Linked DNA regions of Homo sapiens: region 1 is linked to region 2. Evidence: fine-mapped expression QTL. A gene starts in region 2. The other region holds a variant in brackets. All regions are shown on one strand. Distances are between the middles of the regions.

Region 1 (8,000 bases), 270 kb before region 2:
CACCCATCAGCACGCCTGGCTAATTTTGTGTTTTTAGAAGAGACAGGGTTTCACCATCTTGACCAGGCTGGTCTCCAACTCTCGACCTCAAGTGATCCACCCACCTTGGCCTCCCAAAGTGCTGGGATTACAGGCATGAGCCACCGCTCCCGGCCCCAGCTAGAGGCATTTTTAAACCTCTTCCCTTCCATTGGATGTTGCCTCCACTTTAAATAGGGGCTGCATCTTCAGGACGCAGACTAGGAAAGACGCTTCTGCTCCAGGTTCTGGAGTACCTAAGCTTGACCTGCCCTGGGAGTAGGGTGGGGAATGGCACTTCACGTTTGATAGAGCGGAGTGTCTGCTACTGGTGGAGGCACTCACGTTTGATACAGTGGTTGGTGCTGTTTGCTGTTGTCCATCCTGGGCAGCACTGTCCCCCGCAGACGTTCCTCCTGTGGGGTCACCAAAACAGAGTCAACACAAGGATGCTCAGAGCTGGGGACTATTCACAGCCCCTCCGACAGTCCCACCTTCTAGAGGCAGGGCCTGGAGGAACATGGAGAGGCTGGGAAGGCTGTCCCTATTCTACTTGCAAATCTAAGATTGAATCCTGACTCTGCCATTCTCTGCACATCCCTGGGAAACCTCACTCTCTCCATCTGTACAATGGAGATAACAATAGCTGCTTAATTGAGTTGTTATGATGGTTAAATGAGGTGAGAATGTTTAACATCTGACATAAAGAAGGCAGTCCACTGGGGCAACAATGACAGTGATCCTAAAGCTAATAAGCCACTTCAGAGAGGTTCAGTGACTTGCCAATTCCACACAGCAGGTAAGTGCCAGAGCCTGATTCAAACCTGGGTTGGCCCAACTCTAAGCCATGCTCCAACTCTACATTGCCTCTCACCAAAAAAAAAAAAAAAAAAAACCACACACACAAAAAAACACCATGGTCGTTGCCCTACCAATGCTGACGATCCAAGGGAGGCTGGAAGACACACATAAAACAGTCTCAAGGTCATACGAGGTGTTACCTGCCAACGAATGCACACTGAGGAGTCTCAGCCCCCGGCAGTCTGGTGCGTGGGAAGGCTGAGCCCTGAGTGGGCACTGAAGGAACAGGGCTCTAGAATCCCTGGTTAAGAGGTGCTTACAAGGTGGCAAGCTGGTAGGAGGATGGGGCTGGGGATGTGGGTTAAGCTGCCTCTGCACAATTTTTATGTGGAGGCACAATTTTTATTTGAGAGGCAAACAGGACTTACTCTATAGCGAAATAGAGTTCTTCCATCAACTACTCCTTTTTTTTTTTTTTTGAGTCTCACTATATCGCCCAGGCTGGAGTGCAATGTCGTGATCTCGGCTCATGGCAACCTCAGTCCTGCCACCATGCCTGGCTAATTTTAAAAATATTCTTAATAGAGATGGGGTTTCACCATGTTGGCCAGGGTGGTCTCAAACTCCTGAGCTTAGGTGATCCACCCACCTCGGCCTCCCAAAGTGCTGGGATTATAGGTGTGAGCCACTGCGCCCAGCCCTTCAGCTACTCCTTGATGTTGGCTCTGAGGGCACCCCCATGAGACGCTGACCTACAGTGCTGGGGCATTCACTCAGCTCCCCAAACTTTGCTTCCGGGTGTCTGGCGCACTCCAGCAGCACCAGCAGTTTCCACCCGGCCCTGACTCTGCAGCTAAAGACCCACATGCCTAGACCAGGGCGTCTCCCTAGAAGGGCTTCTCCTGGAGATCTCTAGGGACTGACTCCTTGGCAGGCTGGGCCGGGCTCTGGCTTCCATCCTTATCATTGGAAATCATCACCGGGCACTGGAACTAGAGGGTAAGAGGGGAGGGAGAAGTGCAGAGGCTGGACAGGCAAAGGACAGAGCAGGGCGGCCACTCCTGTGATCTCTGTGGCCAGCATGGCGACATCTGGTCCCACTTAGGAGTTTGTTTGACATTTGAGTGGACCCCAAAGCTTATGTGGTTTTTGGAGTCTTACGAAGAATTCAAAATAAATTCCTGCAGCTTGAAAAAGCGGAGGCCCATTCCTGGCCCTTTGGCCCAAAGTTGTGGGCACTGCCTCCCTCCCAGGGAGCTCCCAGAATGTCCCACCAGCCAAGAGTTGTGCCACTTGGGCCACCTCAAAGCCTCTCTGGGCGACCACCGTTAGCAGCTTCCTGGCTGCATCAGGGCCCATGTCACGGGGGTCAGGGAAAGGGCTGCTTGTCAGACCCAGAGTTTCCGGGGGTGCGCCCCAGTGGAAGGGGAAACTACGTACCCACTTTTATGTCACCACCCCTTGTGGTGGTGACAAGACCTCTCGTGGGGCTAGGAGGGCTCTGAGAGGAAACAGATTCTGTGCCCTGGGAATTTTCTAAGAATTAGGGCCTGTGGGAACCCAGACAGCACGGACGCAGGAGCCTGCCTGGCTGGGAGGTCATGGCATGGAGCCCAGCCCAAGGAGGCCCCCTGAGCCAGCCGTCACCCCAGCTGCCCTCAGGATGGCTTTGCAGCTGACTGTGGGAGGGCAGGGGCCAACCTTGCTTTGCCTGCACAGAGTAGGCCCTAAGGGATGTAAGGCCACGTGAGGATTGGCCAGAATCAAAGGCTGCCAGGCAGAGAGGCCAGGCTGGGGCTGGTAGGGCACTCAAGAGAGATTCAGGTCCCCAAGGAGAGTCTCTAAGGATCCCTACAGGCCAATATTAAAGTTTTGGGTGCAGGCCCAGGGAGGTAACCAGCTGGGAATTCTGGGAATTGTCAGTTCAGTGGGCTCTGGCTAGCAGAGAGAGCAAATGAGCCTGAACAGCTGGGATATATAATTCAATCACTCTGACTCCCTAGAAGGTACCTCTCAGAGATCATCTGAGTCCAGTCTTCCAGTTGACACCACTCAGCACACATTAGCCCAGTATCCAGCATCACTGTAGGGAACACATCTGGCTAGCAGTCTGGGAGAGCTGCTATTCCACCTGGGCCAAATCTGATCACACTAGCCCTTTGTTAAAAACCTCCCACAGCTCTCCACTGGCCTCTACAAGGCCCCCTGGCACCCATGTGCCTACTTTCCTGTGCAGTCTAATTGTCCCCATCACCCCCACCTTGTCTCCACAACCATCCACAGCCAAGGCTTTGCTCCTCCAAGGATACAAGGTTTGTTGCTCCCCAGTTACCCTATGGATTTCACTTCGATGCCTTTGCCTGGGCTGCTCTCTCTGCCTAGAATGCCTTTCCTCTCTGGTCTACTGATTAAAATCCTTTGCATACTCCAAGACTTCCAGATCAGATATTACCTTCTTTGTATAAAACCTCCCCTGGGCCAGGCAAGGTGGCTCACACCTGTAATCCCAGCACTTTAGGAGTCTGAGGTGGGCAGATCACAAGGTCAGGAAATTGAGACCATCCTGGCCAACACAGTGAAACCCCGTCTCTACTAAAAATTAGCTGGGCATGGTGGTAAGCACCTGTAGTCCCAGCTACTCACTCGGGAGGTTGAGGCAGAAGAATTGCTTGAACCCAGGAGGCGGAGGCTGCAGTGAGCAGAGATTGTGCCACTGCACTACAGTTTGGCGACAGAGCAAGACTCCATCTCAAAAAACAAAACAAA[C/CA]AAAAAAAAAAAACCCACCTCCTCTGACATCTACCCAGCCTTCCCTCATTCTCCATCTGCATCTGCTGTGATCACTTAGTACTGCCTGTCTCAGGTCATTGGTTGTATCTCAGTCTTGGGTATCTAGAGGTTTCTTTCTTATTTCTCCTTGTGCCTCTACAGTCTAACACAGTGCCCAACATGTGGTATACAATTGATACTTGTTTCATTTAATCTGGAGTTTCACAAAAAGTGGGATGAGCCACTGAGGGTAGGAAAGGCATTTTAAGTTTACAGATCACAACATTCAACAATCTGAGTTACATGGTGAGAAAGTGATTCTCTTTTTGGTGATCCTTCTAACCTAATGATGTCAGTGAAAAAGGCCACGTCCTCCCCTCAACACACGCTAGTCCCCCTTCCAATAGAGGGAACTTGCCACAGAGTTGAGCTTCCTAAGACAATGAATGAAGTCTGACTAGAACTTAAGAACATTTTGTTTTCATTTCAATTTTCCTACAGTTATCTTCTCTTTATAACAAGTGGTACTGCTTTCAACTTATGATAATGATACAAAGTTTCCTTTCAGTTATGAATTTATTTATGGAGAAAAATGAGTCAAGCACTGTCTGTAATAGCAAAAAAATTCAGTAGAATTTTTAGAAAATTACTTTTAGAAAAAGTAATTCATCTAAATGTCCAAAAACAGGAGGATGGATAAACTGTGGTAATATTCAGACAAAGGAATAATATACAACAGTTAAAATGAATAAACTTGGGCTAATTATATTAACATGGTTAAATCTCAAAAATCTAATGAGGAGGGGAAAAACAAATTGCAGAAGAATAATGAAATAGGGTCTCACTTATCTAAGTTTAAAATATGCAAAACAACATTGTATATTTTGTGGATACATGTATCTATAGTAATATTGTAAAAACATCTATTGGAATTAATTAAATTCAGGGTAGTGGTTAACTCTGGGGAGGGAAGGAGGCAAATTTATAGAGGAAATTTCAACTAAAAAACTGGAATCAAAATATGTCAAAATATTAAGGTTTGATAAAACTAGACTATGTTTTTTTTTTTTTTTTTGAGACGGAGTCTCGCTCTGTCGCCCAGGCCGGACTGCGGACTGCAGTGGCGCAATCTCGGCTCACTGCAAGCTCCGCTTCCCGGGTTCACGCCATTCTCCTGCCTCAGCCTCCCGAGTAGCTGGGACTACAGGCGCCCGCCACCGCGCCCGGCTAATTTTTTGTATTTTTAGTAGAGACGGGGTTTCACCTTGTTAGCCAGGATGGTCTCGATCTCCTGACCTCATGATCCACCCGCCTCAGCCTCCCAAAGTGCTGGGATTACAGGCATGAGCCACCGCGCCCGGCCAAAACTAGACTATGTTATATTATTTTCAATACCTTTTAGTGCATTTATAAAACTTCATAATATACTTTAAAACAGATAAAACACAAAATCCTGTTATTTTAACAGAATATAAAGTTAAAGAAAAATAATAACAGAACAAGAGGGAAAGGTAGAGAAAAATATTATACAGGTGGTCTGCTGTGAGGCTGGTTCAAAAAACCCTATAGAGGCCAGGCGTGGTGGCTCACACCTGTAATCCCAGCACTTTGGGAGGCCAAGGTGGGTGTAGTGCTTAAGCTCAGGAGTTTGAGACCAGCCTGGCCAACATGGCGAAACCCCATCTCTACTAAAAATACAAAAAATTAGCCGGGTGTGGTGACGTGCGCCCATAATCCCAGTTACTAGGGAGGCTGAGGCACGAGAATTGCTTGAGCCTCGGGGGTGGAGGTTGTAGTGAACCGAAATAATGTCACTCCAGCCTGAGTGACAGGGCAAGAGACTCTATCTCAAAAAAAAGAAAAAAAAAAAAAGAAAAAAAGAAAGAAAGAATAAAGAAAAGAAAAGAAATGAAAAAGAAACCCTGTAGACTGTAAATTTCATTAGCGTAGGGACGGTGTCCACTCTGGTCACTGCTGTATCCCAAATACCTAGCATCAAGCCTGGCACAAACTTAATAAGTCTTTATTATGTGCAATAAATCTTTTCTACATTGAAAGTTCCATGAGGACAGAGTATGCCTGTCTTGGTCACTGCTATATCCTCAAGATCCAGTATAGGGCCTGGGTATAGAAGTTCTTCCAAAATATTTGTCGAATGAATGAAGAAGCTCCAGTAGCAGTGGTGCAGTTCCAAGATTCACCAGGAGGTGGCACTTGGTCCCTGGCTGTCTGCAGCTCACAAGGCAATGAATGGCCAACCTGATCAGCCTGACTAGAAGCCATTAGCCAGAATGGACCAGGGTGGAGGAAGAGAATAAACAAGATGACCCCTCAGGTCCTCCCCAGCTGACATGGAGTGGCTGACTGGAGTGTCAGGGAACCCACTCTTTATCAAAGCTGCAGAAGACAATGTGGGGGAGGAGCCTGACCAGTGTGTCATGTGATGTGTGCACCTGTGTACAGCAGGTGGCACCCAGCCCATGTCTTCACATGCCTGTTCACATCCACCAGCTTTGTTGTAGTGACAATTCGCTTTATTTCATGACTTCTAATAGTGCACCCTCCAGCCCCCACGCTCCACTTCCCCACCTTCCCCCGCACCTCACCTGCACCTAAATGCCTGCAGTACAAGCTCCTCCCTGCTCCAGCCCAAGCTATGTCTCTAGGTTCCCCTACACCAAAGCTGCAGTGCTACCCCTGGGCCAGTGCCAACAGTAAAAAGCCCTTGTCCTTGGGCAGTGCTACATCTGCACACCACCCTCACCTCCAGGCCCCCCTCCTGCCACCTCCCCTCTGCTTCCCCACATGCTGCCCACAGAGCCCCAGGGGCCCCAGGTCACAGGTCCCCTCTACTCAGCTCTTCAGCTACAGTTGCCCCACTCCTTTGCACTTAACAGGAACCTTCCAGTACTAGAAAGCATCTGTTCATTTCTTCAACGTGATATTAAGTAATTGGGTTGCTCTCCCAGCAGGAACAATGCCTTGGACTCTGGGCCTCCATCCCCTTTCCCATGCTCTGCACGCAGGATCCTTGGAAGCATGCATTCACTTGCACAGATCAGGAAAGGAAAACGCTGAAACACAGCAGGTGCTTTCCACTAAGACTTGTTGAATGATCCTATGTGTAAGCGACTTGGCAGTGCATGGGTCTACTCTCTGCCTGCTTGAAGCTGGGCCTTCCATGGGCAGCAGGGAGTTCATCCACTCATTCAACAGATACCTAGAGAATACCAACCAGTGCAGGCACTATTCTAGGCACAAGAGACACAGAAATGGACACAACGAAGTCCCTGTTTGCATAGAGCTTGCATTAGTGTGGGCTGGGAGGCCAGGCCATAAACACATAAATAGGAATAGAACATATCAGATAGAATAAGTACTATGAAGAAACATAAAGCAGGGTGAAAGGAGAAAGAGGATGGGGCACGGGTGGCCAAAAGTCACTCTGAGCAGAAATCTGAAAGAGACAGAGCTCAATCCTGCTGAAATATGAGAAGAGCGCTCCAGCCAAGGAAAACAGAGCGCCAAGGAAAACAGAGCGCCAAGGCTGCGAAGTGCAAGGTCCTTGGAGTAGGACTCGGGGTACAAGTGTCTTTCATGCTGTTCCCCAGGACTAAACCCAACTGGCAAATCGGGCCCAGGCAAAGAGAGGCTGCCAAAGCCCTTCCCAGACTTCCCGATGGTGCCCCCACCCAGCCCCTCACTGCCCAGGGCTCAGTGCCCTCCATTCCAGAGGCACCTGCCATACCCAGGCAAGGCGGAGCGTGCCCGCAGCCATGATGATCCGATTGGGGATGGGGATTACTGGGGCATCTTCTCACTCTGCGACGGCGCCCGCGGTGGGCAGGGGGTGGTGCCCAGGGGGAGCAAAAAAGTAAATTGCAGGGTTGTGCGGTGGCTTAGCCCTGCAACGCGCCCAAGTCACGCTTACACCTAGATGCACAAGAGCACACTGATCCAATTCTCCACGCGCCCACTGTGTCGCAGCCTCATCAGGACACGCTTCCCGCCCAAAGTACCCAGAGCTCACGCCCACGCCCGCATCCAGCCCTCAGCGTGCGCAGGCCGACCCACGCCCCACGACACTTGTCCCGACGCACCAGCTTCGCTGCCGGCTCCCCTCCTGGAGACGCATCTACCTTCTCTCCATGGGGCCCCCGACACCTCCGCCAACCCGCGCTCTGAGCCAGCTCAACCTCCCCTGGGCGTCAAGAGCCTGGAGCGCCCACCCTCCTGCCCTCTCCCCGCTGCCTCTCAGATCCCGGCAGCGCTGCAAGAGTCTACAAGAGCTCGTTAGTTGCAGGCAGGAGGAACGCGGGCGAGTGGAGAGGCGCCTTGCGAAAGGATTTAACGTCGGGGCTCCGGGAGAGTTGGTAAGAAAGGATGAGGATGATGATCTATCTGCCTTCAACTCT
Region 2 (8,521 bases):
GATTGCTTGAGTCCAGGAGGCAGAGGTTGCAGTGAGCCGAGATTGCACCACTGTACTCCAGCCTGGGCGATAGAGTGAGACCCCATTACAAAAAAAAAAAAAAAAGGGTGGGCGCAGTGGCTCACGCCTGTAATCCCAGCACTTTGGGAGGCCGAGGTGGGTGGATCACAAGGTCAGGAGATTGAGACCTCCTGGCTAACACGGTGAAACCCCGTCTCTACTAAAAAACACAAAAAATTAGCCGGGCATGGTGGCAGGTGCCTGTAGTCCCAGCTACTTGGGAGGCTGAGGCAGGACACTGGCATGAACCTGGGAGGCAGAGCTTGCAGTGAGCCGAGATCACACCACTGCACTCCAGCCTGGGCAACAGAGCAAGACTCCGTCTCAAAAAAAAAAAAAAAAAAAGAAGTAAGTTACAGAATGATACAGGCACTGTGATTCCATTTCTACTAAGTTAAAAAATAGACCAAAAAAAAATACCCACACAAAAACATGTCTAGATTTTCATTGTGTATTCATCAGTCCATTATTTTGAATTACAACTGAATGAAGAGATAGACAGATAGATGGAATCTAGGTATCATAGGTAACACTGAGTGAATATAGGGCATAGTCCCTATTTTAAGGAGCCCAAAGATGGAAGCATAGGCTATAGCCCCATCTACTAGCTGGCCGATAATATTCATAAACTCATAGGCAAGGATGTGAATGTATGGTTCAGAACACACATAAGAAAACCGGGGGATTTGAGGTAAATGAGCTACTTAATCCTTTCTAAAAACACACCTTTTTTCTTATTTAATTTGAAAGTAAATACATCTTTCATTTTCATTTTTTATTTTTTTCTATATCAGACCACTGCTGGAGACATCTTTTTCTTAATTTAAAAACACAGGCAAAAATGTGTATAGAACATAAGCATATTGAAGCTATAATGAAAACAAGGGGATGGTTAATATATAATTCAGTATAGTAGTGGCTAACTGGGTGTGATGATGGAGGAGACCACAGGGAACTTTTCCATTCCTTCAGCTGGGCAGCAAGTATGGGAATTCCTTTTATTATTTTTCTTTTAAACTGGACACATAGATTTTTATATCCTTTTTAATACGTATTTTACAATGAAAATGTTTTTAAAAATTATCTTTTGGGCCGGGTACAGTGGATCACGCCTGTAAGCCCAACACTTTGGGAGGCCAAGGTGGAGGGGTCACTACGTCAAGAGATCGAGACCATCCTGGCCGACATGGTGAAACCCTGTCTCTATTAAAAATACAGAAATTAGCCGGGCATGGTGGTGGGCGCCTGTAGTCCCAGCTACTCATGAGGCTGAGGCAGGAGAATCGCTTGAACCCAGGAGGCAGAGGTTGCAGTGAGCCAAGATCATGCCACTGCACTCCAGCCTGGCAACAGAGTGAGATTCCACTCAAAAAAAAAAAAAAAATTCTCTTTTGAGCCCTGCCACAATTTATATTCATAAACTCTTGCCCCAGTAGATGGTGCTGTGTCTTGGGAAGCTCTAAATGAAGGAGTGCCCTAGCTTATTGGGTTGCAGCTTGGAGTCCATGGAAGCTCGTATGTGAATCTCGAGGAAATCAATTTCAACTTTTACCCTCTCAATGGGATTTTGTATGAAACCATGCTCGAGTGTGTGTGTGTGTGTGTGTGTGTGTGTGTGTGTGGTGTCTTTAGACTGTAATATCTAAGATTAACTTGGGTGATCACTAAAACTCCAGAAGTGCTTTGCCACATTATAACCAGGCTTGAAGTCTTGAAGCCTCTACATCTTTTTTTTTTTGAGACGGAGTCTAGCTCTGTCACCCAGGCTGGAGTGCAGTGACATGATCTCAGCTCACTGCAAGCTCTACCTCCCGGGTTCACGCCATTCTCCTGCCTCAGCCTCCCTAGTAGCTGGGACTACAGGCACCCGCCACCAGGCCCGGCTAATTTTTTGTATTTTTAGTAGAGACGGGGTTTCACCGTGTTAACCAGGATGGTCTTGATCTCTTGACCTCGTGATCCGCCTGCCTCAGCCTCCTAAAATGCTGGGATTACAGGCGTGAGCCACCGTGCCCAGCCTGAAGCCTCTACACCTTCTATAAGAATCTCAAAAATTGTTAAAGACTGTGAAAGCCTGTAATCCCAGCACTTTGGGAGGCCAAGGCAGGCGGATCATGAGGTCAAGATTTTGAGACCATCCTGGCCAACACCCTGTCTCTACTAAAAATACAGTGACACCCTGTCTGACACCCCGTCTCTACTAAAAATACAGAAATTAGCTGGGCATGGTGGCACGCACCTGCAGTCCCAGCTACTCGGGAGGCTGGGGCAGGAGAATCACTTGAACCCGAGTGGCAGAGGTTGCAGTGAGCCAAGATGAGATCATGCCACTGCACTCCAGCCTGGGCAGCTGAGCAAGACTCTATCTCAAAAAAAAAAAAAAAAAAAAAAAAAAAAAAAGACCGTGAAAGGACTGGGTAGCTATCTAAGAAAAATATTAACAGCAACACTGGCAAGAAATTGCCATAGCCCCTGACTACCGTTCTTGGATTCTTCAGCTGTGTCCACCAATGTTGTAAACATGGAAGTATTTAGTCATTCCACAAATATTTATTGAGTACCTACAGAGTCCCAGGAACTCTGATGTCCCAGGTGTTGTGTTTGGAAAATTCAGGAAAATAGAGAGTGGTCTCTTTCCACCTGCTGCTCTATGCAGCATGGGAGACAGACAGGTAAACAGGACATTACAATAAAATGCAATGTAGAAACCCAGACACAGTGCTTTGGAAGCATAGAAAATGTATCTGTTAACTCTGCCAGAGGGGTTAGGAAGGGATTAAGAAGGAGATTTAAAGGATGACTAGGAGTTCCTAGGCAAATAGGAGGAGGAAACAGCCCATGCAAATAGCTCAGCAAGGCTATGGCCAGTAGTGTGGTTTGACTAAAGCTCACAATCTGTGAGAATGTGGGGAGAGAATCAGAACATAATCAGAGGCCTGATTATCAGGTGCCTGGCCAAGTTGAGGAGTTTGTACTTTATCCTACAAGGGAGATAAACTTTATCTCCCTTGCTTTATCCGACCAGGAGAAGCAATGAAAGACTTTAATCAGAGGAGTGACAGGATTAGGTTTGCATTTCAGAAGGATTTCTTTTTTTTCTTTACTTTCTTTTTTTTTTTTTTTTTGAGACGAAGTCTCACTCTGTTGCTCAGGCTGGAGTGCAGTGGTGCAATCTTGGCTCACTGCAACCTCCATCTCCTGGGTTCAAGCAATTCTCTTGCCTCAGCCTCCCGAGTAGCTGGGATTACAGGCATTCACTACCACACCCAGCTAATTTCTGTATTTTTAGTAGAGATGGGGTTTCACCATGTTGGCCAGGCTGGTCTTGAACTCCTGATCTCAAGTGATCCACCCACCTCATCCTCCCAAAGTGATGGGATTACAGGCGTGAGCTACCACACCAGGCTCAGAAGGATCTTTGACACAGATATAAAGGATGATGGGCTAGAGAAAGCGAGAGCGGAGGCTTAGAACTGCTTAGGGAGCTTTTCAAATAATTCAGGTGAAAGCTACTGAGGAGTTAATTGTGGGTAGCAGCAGGGCAGAGCTGTTTTCTCTATTTCTAGTTAGGACTTTGGCCCATCCTTCCAGAATTTCAGTGGCAGTGCTTTCAGGGTTCAGGTGAGTGAAGGCACTGTAAAGGTCCTGATGGAATTTGAGGCCAGCCTGGGCAACATAGTGAGACCCCGTCTCAATTTATATTAAAACATAAATTAATTAGAAAAATAAAAAATAAAGGTCCTGAGGGCCAGGCAAAATGCCTCAGATAAAGAAATCATCATGAACGGCACCAAGTGGTTCATTCATTCATTCATACATTTATGTGTTACTAATTCAGCCAGAGGTTTAAAGCACATCTTTTTCATTAGGAAGGTGAGCCTTAAAGGTGAATACTCAAGGGGCCTGAATACTTAAGGAGGGGAAGGGGATGCTATATGCTTTCACTTCAAGTCAGCGGGAAGAATGGCACACTCAAAGTGGGGAGGTCAGCCTGGCATGGTGGCACCTGTAGTCCCAGCTACTCCAGAGGCTGAGGCAGAGGGATCGCTTGAGCCCAGAGTGTCGAGGCTCCAGTGAACTATGACCTTGTTTCTTAAAAAAACAGCTGGGAGTTTATATTCTAGGGATAGGGTGACAAACGAACAACTTCCAAAATGCACAAGATGTATGGGGAACAATTAGTTTGGCTGGAATTTGCGTTGGGGGGAGATCAGAAGCTGTTGAGAAATAAGGCTATAGTTGGTGAAGATATCCGACTCGTAAAAAGGCAATGGGATTTAGAAATTCCTGGGATTCTGTTTCTTTGACTCGGGGTTAGGAAGACAGGGAAGTAACAAGTGCCTTTTTTTTTTTTTTTAATAGTTAAGGGACCTGAGACTGGGGGTGGGGGGCAATGTCATCTGCCCCAGGCCACACAAGTGTAAGATCAGGCATGCATGTCTGCCAAGGTTTCAGTTCAATGTCCGTGCCCCTCTTTTGCTCTCTTCCCAAGGTACAGAGGCGGAACGGCGCGGTGCCCTCGGGTCCCAAGAGAGAAGGGCGCCAAGCTCAGAGCCAGTTCTGTGGAAGGGTAGGGGAAGGCCTGACCCCGGGGGCAATGTGGTGGCGGGACAGTCGTATACACCTTCAGGAGAACCACCTCAGGCTGACAGGCAGTGCGGAGGGCCCCAAGAGCGCCTTAGGGTTGCCTGCTCCAGAGAGCGGGACTCCTGCGCTGCAGCCGGGATACTGGGCGCCGCCGTGCGCCCACCCCCTGCCAGTGGTTCGCTCCGAACACCCCTCGTCGGGCGGCGGGTACTGCGGCCCGCCCCACTTCCGGTTGTTGTCCGGCCCTATATCCGGTGTCCGCCCGCCCTCGGCTCCTCCGCCGTGATGCTGTCCCGATCCCGCTGTGTGTCTCGGGCGTTCAGCCGCTCGCTCTCCGCCTTCCAGAAGGTACGGTCTGGCCGAGCCGGGGCCCCGACGGGTGAGGAGTCTGTTGGCGGGCAGAGAGGCGGCCTGGAAGGCAGGGGCGCGGCGCGCCGGCCGGGCCGGGCACCAAGGGCACTGGGACGCGGAGGCCGCGCGGGCTGGGCGGCCCGGGGCCGTGGTTGCCCTCGGGACCGTTTTGCGGAGCCCAGCGGCCCCCTGCCTTCTCCAGGCAGCCTGCGGGGAACGTTTCCTGCTGTACCCCACCCTCCGCGCGGGAGCTGGGGAGCCGCGCCCGTCCAGATACTTGACTCAGAGTTAGGGAGGAGGCGCGGCGGAGTCCTCCGGCGGGATTCGGCGCCCGTCTCGTCTTGCTCTGTTAAAATCAGTGGGTATTAATGAGTCCCGTTGGGAAGTTGAGATAGTTTGGCAGGCCCAGCGTGTTGATTGGGTCTGCCAGCACGGTGTGTTGCATTTACCTTCGGAGTTACGAGATTCACCTGTCACCACCACTGGGACAGCTTTGAGCGTGTACTTAAAAGAAAAAGCTGGGTTTTTTTTTCATCTTGGGTGACGTCGATAATGTCTTCTTTCTCAACAGGGGAACTGCCCTCTAGGGAGACGTTCCCTGCCTGGTAAGTTCTGCCCTTACCGTCACCTAAAATGCTCTCCTCCTGGGCAGAGCAGTATGTGAGGAACTCGGGGGTGCCTGTGTTTCTCATAATATTTAAAGACAGTTTGGTTCAGAGAGTAGTGAGACGCAATGCTACATAATCACGAGCTATCGCTTATTCATTTAGCTCGTAGTTGAGTTTCTACTGTGTTAGGCACTGTGCTAGACGCTAGGGATACAGGAGTGGATACAGAAGTGTACAGTTCTTGCCCTCGTGGAGCTCCTAGGCTAGTTGGATAGTGTCAGTTGCTAAACAAGCCAACAAAGGCAAATTTTTGTAACTGCTGAGAAGGAAACGAGGGTGGACAGAAGAGCCCTTTTTGAGGAGGTGACTTAAAAGTTATGGCCATGGCCGGGCGCGGTGGCTGACGCCTGTAATCCCAGCACTCTGGGAGGCTGAGGCGGGCGGATCACGAGGTCAGGAGATCGAGACCATCCTGGTTAACACGGTGAAACCCCATCTCTACTAAAAAATACAAAAAATTAGCCGGGCGTGGTGGCAGGCGCCTGTAGTCCCAGCTCCTCGGGAGGCTGAGGCACGAGAATGGCGTGAAGCCGGGAGGCGGAGCTTGCAGTGAGCCGAGTTCGCGCCACTGCACTCCAGCCTGGGCGACAGAGCGAGACTCCATCTCAAAAAAAAAAAAAAAAAAAAGTTATGGCTAGCAGAATGTGACGGAGCTAACCCAGTGAAGCCCAGGAGAAAGAGAATGGCATTCACAAAGACCCTGAGGAAGAAAAGAGGTTGGCAGAACTTAAGAGCTGGAAAAAAGGTGATTTGGCCGGAGTATTTTGGTTAAGGGAGAGAGTGGCAAGAGATAGAAGATGGTATAGAGACTGAAGGAGTTTAGATTTTATCCTAGCAGTTAAAAAGAAAAAAGTGTCATCCATAGCTTTTTTTCTGTTATATGCCTAGCCTAAGTATTTGTTGAATGAGTTGACCTTGTTGTGGGCTTTCTTTGTGCCAAGCATTTATATGAGTGCTTTCTGTGAATTTTTTAGTTAATCATCTCAAAACAGTAAAAAGTATTTTCTCTATTTTACAAATGCATAACCCAAGACAAGAGAGCTTAAAAGCCTTGGCCATGGTCACCCACCCAGCTGTTGATAAGCCAGGTCTACCTGACCCATCCTGAACTCTTAACCCACCATGTTCTCATTTACTCATGGACTCAACAGATCATTTATTGAGTGCTTACTATATGCCAGCCACTGTTCTAGGTAACAGGGGTATAGATAGACTCTAGCCTCGAGATTTTATGGGCTAGCTGGAGAGAGAGAGCAAATATACATTTATGCTCCGACAAGGGCATAAATTTTGGTTACTACGAGAGAGGAATTAAAGGGTGTGATGAGAGGGTGGGATGATGTAGACCAGCTTGGGAAGGTTGGGAATGTCAGTAAAGGCTTCCCTGAAGAAGTGACATTTAACTGAGACCTGAATATAAAAGAGCCAAGAAAATGTATTCCAGGCAAAGGGAATTGCTTGTGCAAAGGTTTTCAGACAGGAAAGGACTTGACCAGTGATAGACATGGGAAGAAGCCTGTCTGGCAGGAAAGATAGAGTGGGCTGGACGGTACAGGATCGCGTAAAGTGTGGACTTTATCCTGAGAGTTATGAGAACATAAAGCCCCTAGCACAATGTCGGCTTGTAGTGGACTCTCAATAACAAACATGTTTTTCAAGTGGGAACCCTGAACAATGTCAGTAAACATTTTCTCCACTTCATAGGTGGGCAGGACAATGGAAAGAGCCTTGCACTTGGGGATTTGCATTTGGGCTCAGGGATTCACCTTGGGCTAGTCGCTTAACCTCCAAAAGTCCTACTTATATGAAATGGGAATAATGGCAGATGGTCGTTCCACTTCAGAGAGTTGTGAGACTGTAAAATCAAAATGAGGTCATTATGGGAAAGCTTTTTATAAACCCTAAAGCACTGTACAAATGAAATTTGCTGTAGGATGAACTCTGAATTGGACTCCAGGTTCCCAAAATCAGTGTGAGCCGCCATCTATTCTAGTTCAAAAACATACTATGCTTAGAATTTGCACTGCATAGTCATTGGCTGCTGGACATAAAGGTGACTGGCTTACCTATCTTGGGATGCTTGTGAGGAGGTGGGCATAAGAGAGGGCTAGCTCTCATTTGGTGTGTCCTGAGCCCATGGTTCAGAAAGAGTTGTTAATCTGAAAGAAAAAAGACATAAGAAAGAATTCAGAAGAGGCAGCTGTAGTTACTAGTCATCAGTTGGGGAAATGCAGTTAACTATGATAAGGACAGCTGGTGGGCAGAAAGGGTCTCTCACCTTGTTGAGAGTGACCAGGGTGGAAGACTTCAGAAAGGCATGGGAAGTCAATAAACTGAAAGATGGGGACATGATTTTCTCAGCTCTAGGACAAACTGGAGACCCCGAGCCTAAAGTAGCCAAGTCTTTGCTACTAGGATTCAGGTGATAAGATTTCCAACCCAATCTTTTCAAACCCAGACCAAACATCCTCCTTGCTTCTCAAATTGGGTTATGTATAGTCACAGGATAAGCCATCCCATGTCTTTCTCAAGCTTCAGTTGTATTTGAAGACTTGGCGAGTAGAGACATTTTATTATGAAAACATACAGGAATAATGAAAAGTTCTGGCTTTTTAAGGTAGATGAGATTATATAATCACTTTGGGCTGTGCCATCAAATTTTTTCTCTTTCCTCCCCAGCCAAACACATACCCACTCGATCTCACATACCCATTTGCTCTCTGCCACTAAGGCTACTTTGGAAAAGTTTGAGAAGCAGGACTCTATGATAAAGATTATATCCGTTGCCGTTGATCCTGCTCTGTCTCAGGGTTGGGGGTGAGCAGACCTTTTCCATTCCCAGCATGTATCCTTTG

Evidence for each region.
Region 1: its variant is fine-mapped to the expression of DLST in whole blood (INTERVAL, PIP above 0.99).

The regions. Positions count from the first base shown.
Region 1 is chr14:74,603,272-74,611,271 of GRCh38, forward strand. LTBP2 (latent transforming growth factor beta binding protein 2) reads right to left here. Exons shown (of 36, transcript NM_000428.3): 2 at 364-434. Among named protein-coding and RNA genes, the nearest start is that of LTBP2, 5.0 kb to the right of the region's middle. The variant C/CA (reference allele first, on the strand shown) is at 3,586.
Region 2 is chr14:74,877,022-74,885,542 of GRCh38, forward strand. DLST (dihydrolipoamide S-succinyltransferase) reads left to right here and starts at 4,895. Exons shown (of 15, transcript NM_001933.5): 1 at 4,895-4,995; 2 at 5,570-5,603. The coding sequence starts at 4,933. RefSeq lists silencers at 4,827-5,053, 4,910-5,239.